Linked DNA regions of Homo sapiens: region 2 is linked to region 1. The links come from fine-mapping of genetic effects on gene expression. Tissue or cell type: whole blood. Region 1 holds a variant in brackets; the other region holds the start of a gene. All regions are shown on one strand. Distances are from middle to middle.

Region 1 (5,147 bases):
TAAGATGAAAGTTTTATTTACTGAATCGTAAGAAACTACCTGTTCAAATTCATGTAGGATAGCTGAGAGTATTTGGAGAATTATTTTTCAACTAAATGTTTATTTGCAAATGAACTACAGACACACTCCTTGAGTGTCCACTTTCAGGATAAGGAACTCATAAAGGCAACACCATATTTACAACTTTGATCAGATCTCTCTCCTGGTGTGACTTTTCTGAAGCACTGCACATGAATTCATTTGCAGGAGGATGTCCTACATTACACTTATACTGTTTTTCTGTAGTGTGTATTCTCACATGTCGCCTTAAGGATGAGGAACAATTGAATGCTTTCCCACAATGCTTACATTGATAAGGTTTCTCTCCAGTGTGCAGTCTCATATGTATTGGTAAAGATGATGGCCATTTGAAGACCTTCCCACATTCCTTACATTCATAGGGCTTCTCTACAGTGTGCGTTCTCACATGTTGTTGCAAAAGTTCAGGCCAACTGAAAGCTTTCCCACACTGCTTGCATTTATAGAGTTTCTCTGCGGTATGTCTTCTCATATGTTTTTGTAAGGATATGTGGCAATAGAAAGCTTTCCCACATAGCTTGCATTCATAGGATTTGTCTTCAGGGTGCATTCTCACATGTTCTCGAAAGCAAGCAGACAAGCTGAAGGCTTTCCCACACTGCTTACATTCATAGGGTTTCTCTCTAGTATGTGTTCTCATATGTTTTCGTAAAGATATGGGCCAATTGAAAGTTTTCCCACATTGCTTGCACTCATAGGGTTTCTCTCCAGTGTGCACCCTCATGTGTCCTCGAAAGGAGGAGGGGTGACTGAATGCTTTCCCGCACTGGTTGCATTCATAGGGTTTCTCTCCACCATGAGTCCTTTCATGTCTTCGAAAGGACTGGGGATAAATGAAGGTCTTCCCACACTGTTTGCATTCGTAGGGTTTCTCTCCAGTGTGAATCCTTTCATGTCTTCGAAAGGACTGGAGATAAATGAAGGTTTTCCCACATTGTTTGCATTCGTAGGGTTTCTCTCCAGTGTGTGTTATCATGTGTCTTCGAAAAGCCGAAGAATAACTGAAGGCCTCCCCACATTCTTTACATTTATGTGGCTTCTCTCCAGTGTGTGAAATCATATGTCTTCGAAAAGTTGAGGAATAACTAAAGGCTTCCGCACATTCCTTACATTTATATGGCTTCTCGCCAGTGTGTGTTATTGTGTGTCTTCGAAACGTTGAGGAATAACTGAAAGCTTTCCCACATTCCTTACACTTATATGGCTTCTCTCCGGTGTGACTTCTGAGATGACTAGTAAGACTTGAGAAGTCAATAAAGGCTTTCCCACATTGCTTACATTCGTAGGTTTTCTCAGCAGTGTGAATCCTTACATGCCGATTGAGGGAGGAAGTACGAGGAAAGGTTTTCCCACATAATTTACACACATAGGGTCTCTCTCCATTGTGGGTTCTCACATGCATTCTTAGGTGTGAACGACAACTGTAGGCCTGCCCACATTCCTGGCACTGATATGGTTTGTGTCCAGTGTGAACTGTGATGGGACTCTTGAGGGATGTGCGGCGATGCATGAAGACTTTTCCGTACGTGTTGTATTCATACTGTTTTACTCCAGGTGGAATTTTCTTGTACAGATTAAGATGTGGAATCTGGCTGAGGGCTTCTCCACATTGATCATTACTTTCACAGAGTCTCTCCAACCCATGATTTCTACTAAAAATGAGAAGCATGTTATTGGTTTGATTAATAATGATTTGTTAGTATTTATTAGGATTAGGACTGCATCTTAACCATTTTCAGTGAAAGCATAGGTTTTTCACCCCATGGGAACTGTCTGAAAATGAAATAAACTGAATGCCCTGGAAGATGGTTTGACCACTGCCATTATTAAAACAGTGTTTCTTATGTATAGGGTTTCTTTCTCTTTCTTTCTTTTTTTTTTTTTGAGACAGAGTCTTACTCTGTTACCCAGGCTGGAGTGCAGTGGTGCAGTCTTAGCTCACTGCAACCTCTGCCTCCTGGGTTCATGCAATTCTGCCTCAGCCTCCCGAGTAGCTGGGATTACAGGCCTGCGGCACCATGCCCTGCTAATGTTTGTATTTTTAGTAGAGACAGGGTTTCACCATGTTGGCCAGGCTGGTCTCGAACTCCTGTCCTCAAGTGATCTGCCCACTTCA[G/C]CCTTCCAAAGTGCCAGGATTACAGGTGTGAGCCACCGTACCTGGCCTAGGGTTTCTTGATAATGGTTTCCATCTGAATTATGTTTCTAATGTCACTCACTGTCTATGTCACATTTAAAGAAATATTTTTTTGTAAAAATTCTGTGGATTAAACAAATTGGAGCTAGGCTTGGATGAGTTTTCTGTTTGCTTGCTTTTTTAAAGTTTAATGACAGACTAAGATTCTCTCCTGAAATACTATGTTCTCTTGTGAGTGCAACTCACCTGAGATTTCTCCCCTGGTTTGTGGTTTGATCTTCGATGCTAAGACTGTCCCAAATTTTTCCTAAAACAGAGGCCCAGGAAACATTTCTGGTGAACGTGGCTATTTTAGATTCCTTGGGTATTTTCTCTCCATAAATATCCTGCTGAGAAACTGACCCACTGGCCTTAAATTGAGTTTCATCATCTGAAACCAAAAAGTAAACAAATCATATAAGAAGGCACTTGTTAGCGGAAAACGACACTGAGGAGTTTAGCTATCTCAGGACTTCATTAAACACAAAATGGTCAAAAAGGTAAGCAACTCAATCAACACAGTATTAGTAAGCATAGAAAAATTATTAAAAAAAAAAATTCACGGCCAGGCGCGGTGGCTCATGCCTGTAATCCCAGCACTTTGGGAGGCTGAGGCGGGTGGATCACAACGTCAGGAGTTCAAGAGCAGCCTGGCTGACATGGTGAAACCCCGTCTCTACTAAAAATACAAAAATTGGCCAGGGATGGTGGCGCTCGCCTGTAATCCCAGCTACTTGGGCGCCTGAGGCAGATAATTGCTTGAACTCGGGAGGCAGAGGTTGCAGTGAGTCGAGATCACACCACTGCACTCCAGCCTGGGCGACAGAGTGAGACTCCATCTCAAAAAAAAAAAAAAAAATCAAATTTTCACTGGCTTGCACAAACAAATTTCACTAGGCCTATCAAAGCTATATCCACAATGACGACATGAAGGGAGCTTTCTCTACAAAAATAAAAAGCTGAAATACAGATTCTCATTCTCATGGAAAAACATTACATTCTAGCTCTATGACAGCTGTGACTATGTCTGTCTTATTTACCAATTTATTCCCTTTCCACATTCCAAGCCTTGGAACAGGTCTGATGTGTAAGAAATACTTGTTCTCTCAATAACTACGTGAAGGAAGGAATGATGTCATCCTTACCTACTGAGGCCAGGTTCTGAAAGGTCTCCAGCATCACATCTCTGTAGAGGTCCCTCTGAGCAGAATCCAGCAAAGCCCACTCCTCCAGGGTGAAGTCCACAGCCACATCCTCAAAGACCACTGAGTCCTAAAACAATTCAACATATTTATGGGAGGATGGTTGAGACCGAGAGCCCAGGAGCATTGTACTCAATTCGTATGTAGTTCAAACAAGATTCTGTGATTCCCTGACATCTACCCTGTGACTCAGTTGTCACACCTCTTCCTTCCTGTCTACACTCACTTCCTCATAGATTTCACAGGACCATTAACACACTGAATTTCTCTCTATACTTTTACTGGGACCAACTGAAGACATTATTCTCTATCAAAAGGATTCAGACCACATTGGAGATATCAAACAAATGCTATATAAGTGAAACAAATACTTGTATTTTAAGACCATCAGTGCCTTGTCACACAAACCGTTTTAGCTCCTCCCCTGCTGCACACACCATCATTCGGCACTACACAAAGCACAGGGTCAAAACTGAAGTTTTATGGGATAAAAACACTGAAGGATTGGGAACATTCCCTTCTATTTCCTTCATAAGGGCCAGGTAGCCATAGCGTCTTAAAGAACTCCTGGTCCAACTGGCTGAATGAAAACATTCTTTTGAGAAGTATTGATTTTAACTTGGAAACTAGAAGTTATTGAGAAATTAGACCTTAGGAAAGAGGAAAAAGACACGAGAACGTAGACCTCCACACATTCCCTATACTTCGAGCCTCAGTGACGGAAGCCCAACAATTAATTCTGGGTTCTCTCTCTCTCACACGCTGGCTCTCTCTCGTACACACAGGCACACTCACTAAGTATACACAGAGCGAGGTGCACACAATGCCAAAACAGCTCTTTTCACCAGAGCCGAAAGAAAGTATTCTTGGGCCAAGTGTGGTGGCTCATGCCTGTAACCCCAGCACTTTGGGAGGCCGCGGCAGGCAGATCATTTGAGGTCAGGAGTTCAAAACCAGCCTGGCCAACATGGTGAAACCTCATCTCTACTGAAAAAAAAAAAAAAATTAGCCGGGCATGGTGGTGCACGCCTGTAGTCCCAGCTACTTGGGAGGCTGAGGCACGAAAATTGCTTGAACCCGGGAGGCAGAGGTTGCAATGCATCAAGATCATGCCACTGCACTCCAGCCTGGGTGATAGGGCAGGACTCAGTCTCAGAAAAAAAAAAAAAAAAAGTATTATTGCTAACCTTAAGGATAAAGTTAAGAGTCCCACTTTGCAAAGGAGTTAACTGAAGTCCAAACCATTTGACTACGAATTTTCAATGGTTATAAAAGACATAGACAAAATAGTGCCTTCCTAGAAAATTCTGTGTCTCAAATTCCAGGAGGAAGTGATTCCCCACATACCACTCTAGAGGCTGCACTCTCAATTTCTCATTATTTCCATATTGCATATTGGGCACAGGTGCATGGAACCCCCGAGATGCACGGTTCCCTCAAACCTGCTGAGAAAGATCAACTCCTTTCCGTCTATGAGCAGGAGACAGACAAAATACTGTCACGCAGCAATTCTGATGCTAGAACAGTCCTATTCACAGAGCTGCAGAGTATCTACAGGACCCTCCTACTGGCACAGGGGACAATATGAGCTCCCTGGGTTAGCCTTAATTGCTCATAGTGCAGTGTATTTGCAGTGTTTTTTAATAATAAAGTTCCCATATGCCGAAAGAAGTTAACATTGCGGGCCTTAGACT
Region 2 (5,147 bases), 32 kb after region 1:
TACTCCCTCTGAAGGCTCTAGGGAAAAGCTCGGGTATGGTGGCTCATACTTGTAATCCCAGCACTTTGGGAGGCTGAGGCGCGAGGATCACTTGAGCCCAGGGGTTCAAGACCAGCCTGGCCAACATGGTGAAACCTCGTCTACTAAAAATACAAAAAAAATAGCCAGGTGTGGTGGCACATCCCTGTAAACCCAGCTACTCAGGAGGCTGAGGCACGATAATTATTTGAACCTGGGAGACAGGGGTTACAGTGAGCCAAGACTGTGCCACTGCACTCCAGCCTGGGCAATGGAGCAAGACTCTATCTCAAAAAGAAAAGATAAGGAAAAGAAGAAACAAAAGCTCTCAGGAAAAATCCTTCCGCCTCTTCCAGCTACTGGGGTCATGAGTATTGTCCTTATAAGAGAAAGAGACAGCTGGACTAGGTGACTCACGTCTGTAATCCCAGCATTTTGAAAGGCCAAGGCGGGCAGACCACGAGGTCAGGAGTTCGAGACCAGCCTGGCCAACATGGCAAAACCCCCGTCTCTACTAAAAATACAAAAATTAGCTGGGTGTGGTGGCGTGCACCTGTAATCCCAGCTACTCGAGAGGCTGAGGCAGAATTGCTTGATCCTGTGGGGTAGAGATTGCAGTGAGCCGAGATCGTGCCACTGCACTCCAGCCAGGTGACAGACCGAGACCCCATCTCAAAAAATAAAAATAAAAACAAAAAAGGAGAAAGAGACACAGGGAAGAAGGCCACATGATGATGCAGGCAGAGCTTGGAGTGATGTGGCCCCAAGCCAAGGGACACCAACTATGGCAGGCCACCCCCAGAAGCTGGAAGAGACAGAGAAGATCCTCCCGCCAGAGCCTTCAGAAGCACCACGGCCCCACCACATCTTCATGTTGGGCTTCTGGCCTCCAGACTTGTGAGAGAATAAATTTCAAGCCTCCCCCTGCCCCCTGGTTTGTGGTGCATTGTCACAGCAGCTCCAGGAGGCTCATGTAAGAACCAAAGGCGCCGGGCGCAGTGGTCACTTTGGGAGGCCGAGGTAGGTGGATCACCTGAGGTCAGGAGTTCGATACCAGCCTGGCTGGCCAACATGGAGAAACTCTGTATCTACTAAAAATATAAAAATTAGCCAGGCGGGGTGGCGTGCACCTGTAATCCCAGCTACTTGGGAGGCTGAGGCAGGAGAATCACTTGAACCCACGAGGTGGATGCAGTGAGCCGAGATCGTGCAACTGCACTCCAGCCTGGGCAATAGGGCGAGACTGTCTCAAGAAAAAAAAAAGAAGAAGAAAAAGAAACCAACCTGTTTGGGTAGGGGAGAGTTCAGGGAGGTTGGGGTTGCTAGAGCAGCAGAAAGGTCAGCTGCCTCCCTCATTCCTCAACATGGGTGGTGGGTATAAACAGAATAGACCCTTGCAGCTGCGCGGTGGCTCACGCCTGTAATCCCAGCACTTTGGGAGGCTGAGGCGGGTGGATCACCTGAGGTGGGAGTTCGAGACCAGCCTGGCCAACATGGTGAAACCCCGTCTCTACTAAAAATGCAAAAATTAGCCGGGCGTGGTGGCATACGCCTGTAATCCCAGCTACTTGGGAGGCTGAGGCAGGACAATGGCTTGAACCCGGGAGGCGGAGGTTGCAGTGAGCCGAGATCATGCCATTGCACTCCAGACTCCGTCTCAAAAAAAAAAAAAAAAGGACCCTTGCTGTCTTATCACCAGGACAGCGGTGCTAACGTATAAGTGAGGTCTCTCCCTCAGGGCGCTGTGGACACTGGAGCCTGGGTCATTCTCTGGGCTGGGCAGGGTGCTGAGTTGCATCCCTGGCCTCCACCTACTCCATGCCAGGAACTGCCCCCAGTTATGACAACCACAGACGTCCCCAGACATCGCCCGGTGTCCCCTGGAGGGCAGGACCGCCCCTCGCTCAGACCCTCTGATGTGGCCTCACTGCAGTGCGAGCGTGGCAGCCCCTCTCTGCCTTTAGGGTAGAGTCAATGCGTCTTCTCCCTCTCCTTGCAGGCTGGGCCTCGGAAAGCTTATGCGTCTCTCACCCAGGGGCGTTTTCACAGGGCAAGGGCAGACCGTGCCATCCTGGGCGTTGGGGCCCTGGGCGAGCTGCCGGCTCCCGACCCTCCCGTGGGGACCCTATCGCGACAGGGTCATGCCCCGGCCACCCGGCCCCGCCAGACCCAGCCCCACCAGAGCCCCGGCAGGCCCGGCACGGAGGTCGCGGCGCGGGAGGCGGCGGCACTTACGGCTGAGCTGCCGGGAGCCGCGCGCGCCGGCCCAGGTGGGCGCAGGTGACCATCGGGGCGCGCGCTGAGGCGCCAGACAGGGCCCCCGAGGCGGGAGCGCCCCGTGCAGGCCGGCCGGCCTCCCCTGCGTGTCCCTGGGACGCCTCCTCCGCTCGGCTCCTCGGCGCTCGGAGCGGACGCCCCCCGCAGGCGCCCCTCAGGAACTCGCCGCAGCCGCCGCCACCAACCCCGACGCGCGCAGAGGTAAACTCGGCACTGCGCCTGCGCACCCCGAACCTGCGAACTACAAGTCCCAGCAGGCCCCGCAGCGCGGCGCTGGGCTCCTGACTCTCCAACCTGGGTCACAGCGCCGCCTCCGGGCGGGCGGCGTCTCCGCAGGACCACGATGCCCCTGCGGCTGTTGGATCCACCCCGTGTGGTTCGCTGGAGTCCCCGGGTGTTGTGGGGTTCGCGGAGCCAATCCTCAAATCCCAGCTCCGTCGTTTCCCGGCGGCTTGCCATTGGATATTAATAACTACTATTATTTATTAAGCAAGTTATATAAACGTATAATGTATTACATACTTATTAAAATGATTGCTTAAGTAATTGTTGTTTGTTTTTGAGACTGAGTTTCGCTCTTGTCGCCCAGGCTGGAGTGCAATGGCATGATCTCAGGTCACTGAAACCTCCGCCCCCTCGGGTTCAAGCGATTATCCTGCCTCAGTCTCCCAAGTAGCTGGGATTACGGGCGTGCACAACCACACTCGGCTAATTTTTTATATTTTTGGTAGCGACGCGGTTTCACCATGTTGGCCAGGCTGGTCTCGAACTCCTGACTTCCAGTGATCTGCCCGCCTTGGCCTCCCAAAGTGCTGGGATTACAGGCGTGAGCCACCACGCCCAGCCAAATTAAATTATTGTTTAAATATTTATTTAATATTCTACTGATTGTTATTTATGAGAAATTAAAATAGTAAAACTACTATAATTAATATACTGTTGTAGGATACAACAAATTCCTCTTCAAAGGTTTTAGCCTGTAAATTGTTAAGTACAATCAGTTATGAGCTCCTCTCCAAAGAACCAATGTTTCCGTATATTCAGCTCCCCTGTTCTTTTTTTTTTTTTTTTTGAGATGGAGTCTCGCTCTGTCGCCCAGGCTGGAGTGCAGCGGCGCGATCTCGGCTCACTGCAAGCTCCGCCTCCCAGGTTCACGCCATTCTCCTGCCTCAGCCTCCCAAGCAGCTGGGACCACAGGCGCCCGCCACCACGCCCGGCTAATTTTTTTGTATTTTTAGTAGAGACGGAGTTTCACCGTGTTAGCCAGGATGGTCTCGATCTCCTGACCTCGTGATCCGCCTGCCTCAGCCTCCCAAAGTGCTGGGATTACAGGCGTGAGCCACCGCGCCCGGCCACCTATTCTTTGTTCTTCATTTTAAACTTTAACTTCCTCGTTCTTTTCGTTTCCTTGCCCCTAGTTTCAGTAAACAACCCCTCCTAGCCCCTATCACCTGCTCTGACCTTAGTCACCCTTGGTCACCTGCTCTGACCTTAGTCATCCTTGGTCACCTGCTCTGACCTTAGTCATCCTTGTCACCTGCTCTGACCTTAGTCATCCTTGGTCACCTGCTCTGACCTTAGTCATCCTTGGTCACCTGCTCTGACCTTAGTCATCCTTGTCACCTGCTCTGACCTTAGTTATCCTTGGTCACCTGCTCTGTTCTTAGTCACCCTTGTCACCTGCTCTGACCTTAGTTATCCTTGGTCACCTGCTCTGTTCTTAGTCACCCTTGTCACCTGCTCTGACCTTAGTTATCCTTGGTCACCTGCTCTGACCTTAGTCATCCTTGGTCACCTGCTCTGTTCTTAGTCACCCTTGTCACCTGCTCTGACCTTAGTTATCCTTGGTCACCTGCTCTGTTCTTAGTCACCCTTGTCACCTGCTCTGACCTTAGTCATCCTTGGTCACCTGCTCTGACCTTAGTTATCCTTGGTCACCTGCTCTGACCTTAGTCACCCTTGTCACCTGCTCTGACCTTAGTTATCCTTGGTCACCTGCTCTGTTCTTAGTCACCCTTGTCACCTGCTCTGACCTTAGTCATCCTTGGTCACCTGCTCTGACCTTAGTCACCCTTGTCACCTGCTCTGACCTTAGTCATCCTTGGTCACCTGCTCTGACCTTAGTTATCCTTGGTCACCTGCTCTGACCTTAGTTATCCTTGGTCACCTGCTCTGTTCTTAGTCACCCTTGTCACCTGCTCTGACCTTAGTCATCCTTGGTCACCTGCTCTGACCTTAGTTATCCTTGGTCACCTGCTCTGACCTTAGTTATCCTTGGTCACCTGCTCTGTTCTTAGTCACCCTTGTCACCTGCTCTGACCTTAGTTATCCTTGGTCACCTGCTCTGTTCTTAGTCACCCTTGTCACCTGCTCTGACCTTAGTTATCCTTGGTCACCTGCTCTGTTCTTAGTCATTCTGAGTCACCTTTTCTGTAGCCGTCCTTCCTGCCAAACTACTCACCCCGCCACTCTGGCTCATACCCCTGCTCTTTAAAACAGCCAATCAGAATCAGCTTAGACTGTGCGGGCCAACCCTAGCCAATAGGGGAACAACACAGCAGTAGGGGTACCTGCGTCAGGGGTAAGAACCCCTTCTCCTCCCTCGTTCAGGTGTGCTCGTTCAGGCGCCGCCAACCCCGACTCGCGCAGAGGCAAACTCGGCATTGCGCCTGCGCACCCTGAGCCTGTGAACTACAAGTCCCAGCAGGCCCCGCAGCGCGGCGCTGGGCTCCACCTGCCAGACGCACCCTTCTATAGAAGTAAAATTGCCGTGCTGAGAAAATTAATGTTCGAGTGCTGTTTCTTTTGTGGCACCGAAAATTTATTTCTAACACTATAAAGGTTCATAATAT

Evidence for each region. PIP is the estimated chance that this variant, and not a neighbour inherited with it, causes the effect. A credible set is the group of variants that fine-mapping cannot tell apart.
Region 2: it holds the start of ZNF554, and the variant in region 1 is the best candidate, but not a certain one, in a credible set for the expression of ZNF554 in whole blood (INTERVAL, PIP 0.63).

The regions. Positions count from the first base shown.
Region 1 is chr19:2,848,963-2,854,109 of GRCh38, reverse strand. ZNF555 (zinc finger protein 555) reads right to left here. Exons shown (of 4, transcript NM_152791.5): 2 at 3,397-3,523; 3 at 2,459-2,642; 4 at 1-1,730. The coding sequence ends at 158. Among named protein-coding and RNA genes, the nearest start is that of ZNF555, 10 kb to the right of the region's middle. The variant G/C (reference allele first, on the strand shown) is at 2,195.
Region 2 is chr19:2,817,231-2,822,377 of GRCh38, reverse strand. It overlaps ZNF554 (zinc finger protein 554), which reads right to left and starts at 2,510. Exons shown (of 5, transcript NM_001102651.2): 1 at 2,254-2,510. The coding sequence starts at 2,306. RefSeq lists an enhancer at 1,406-2,099 and a silencer at 2,032-2,471.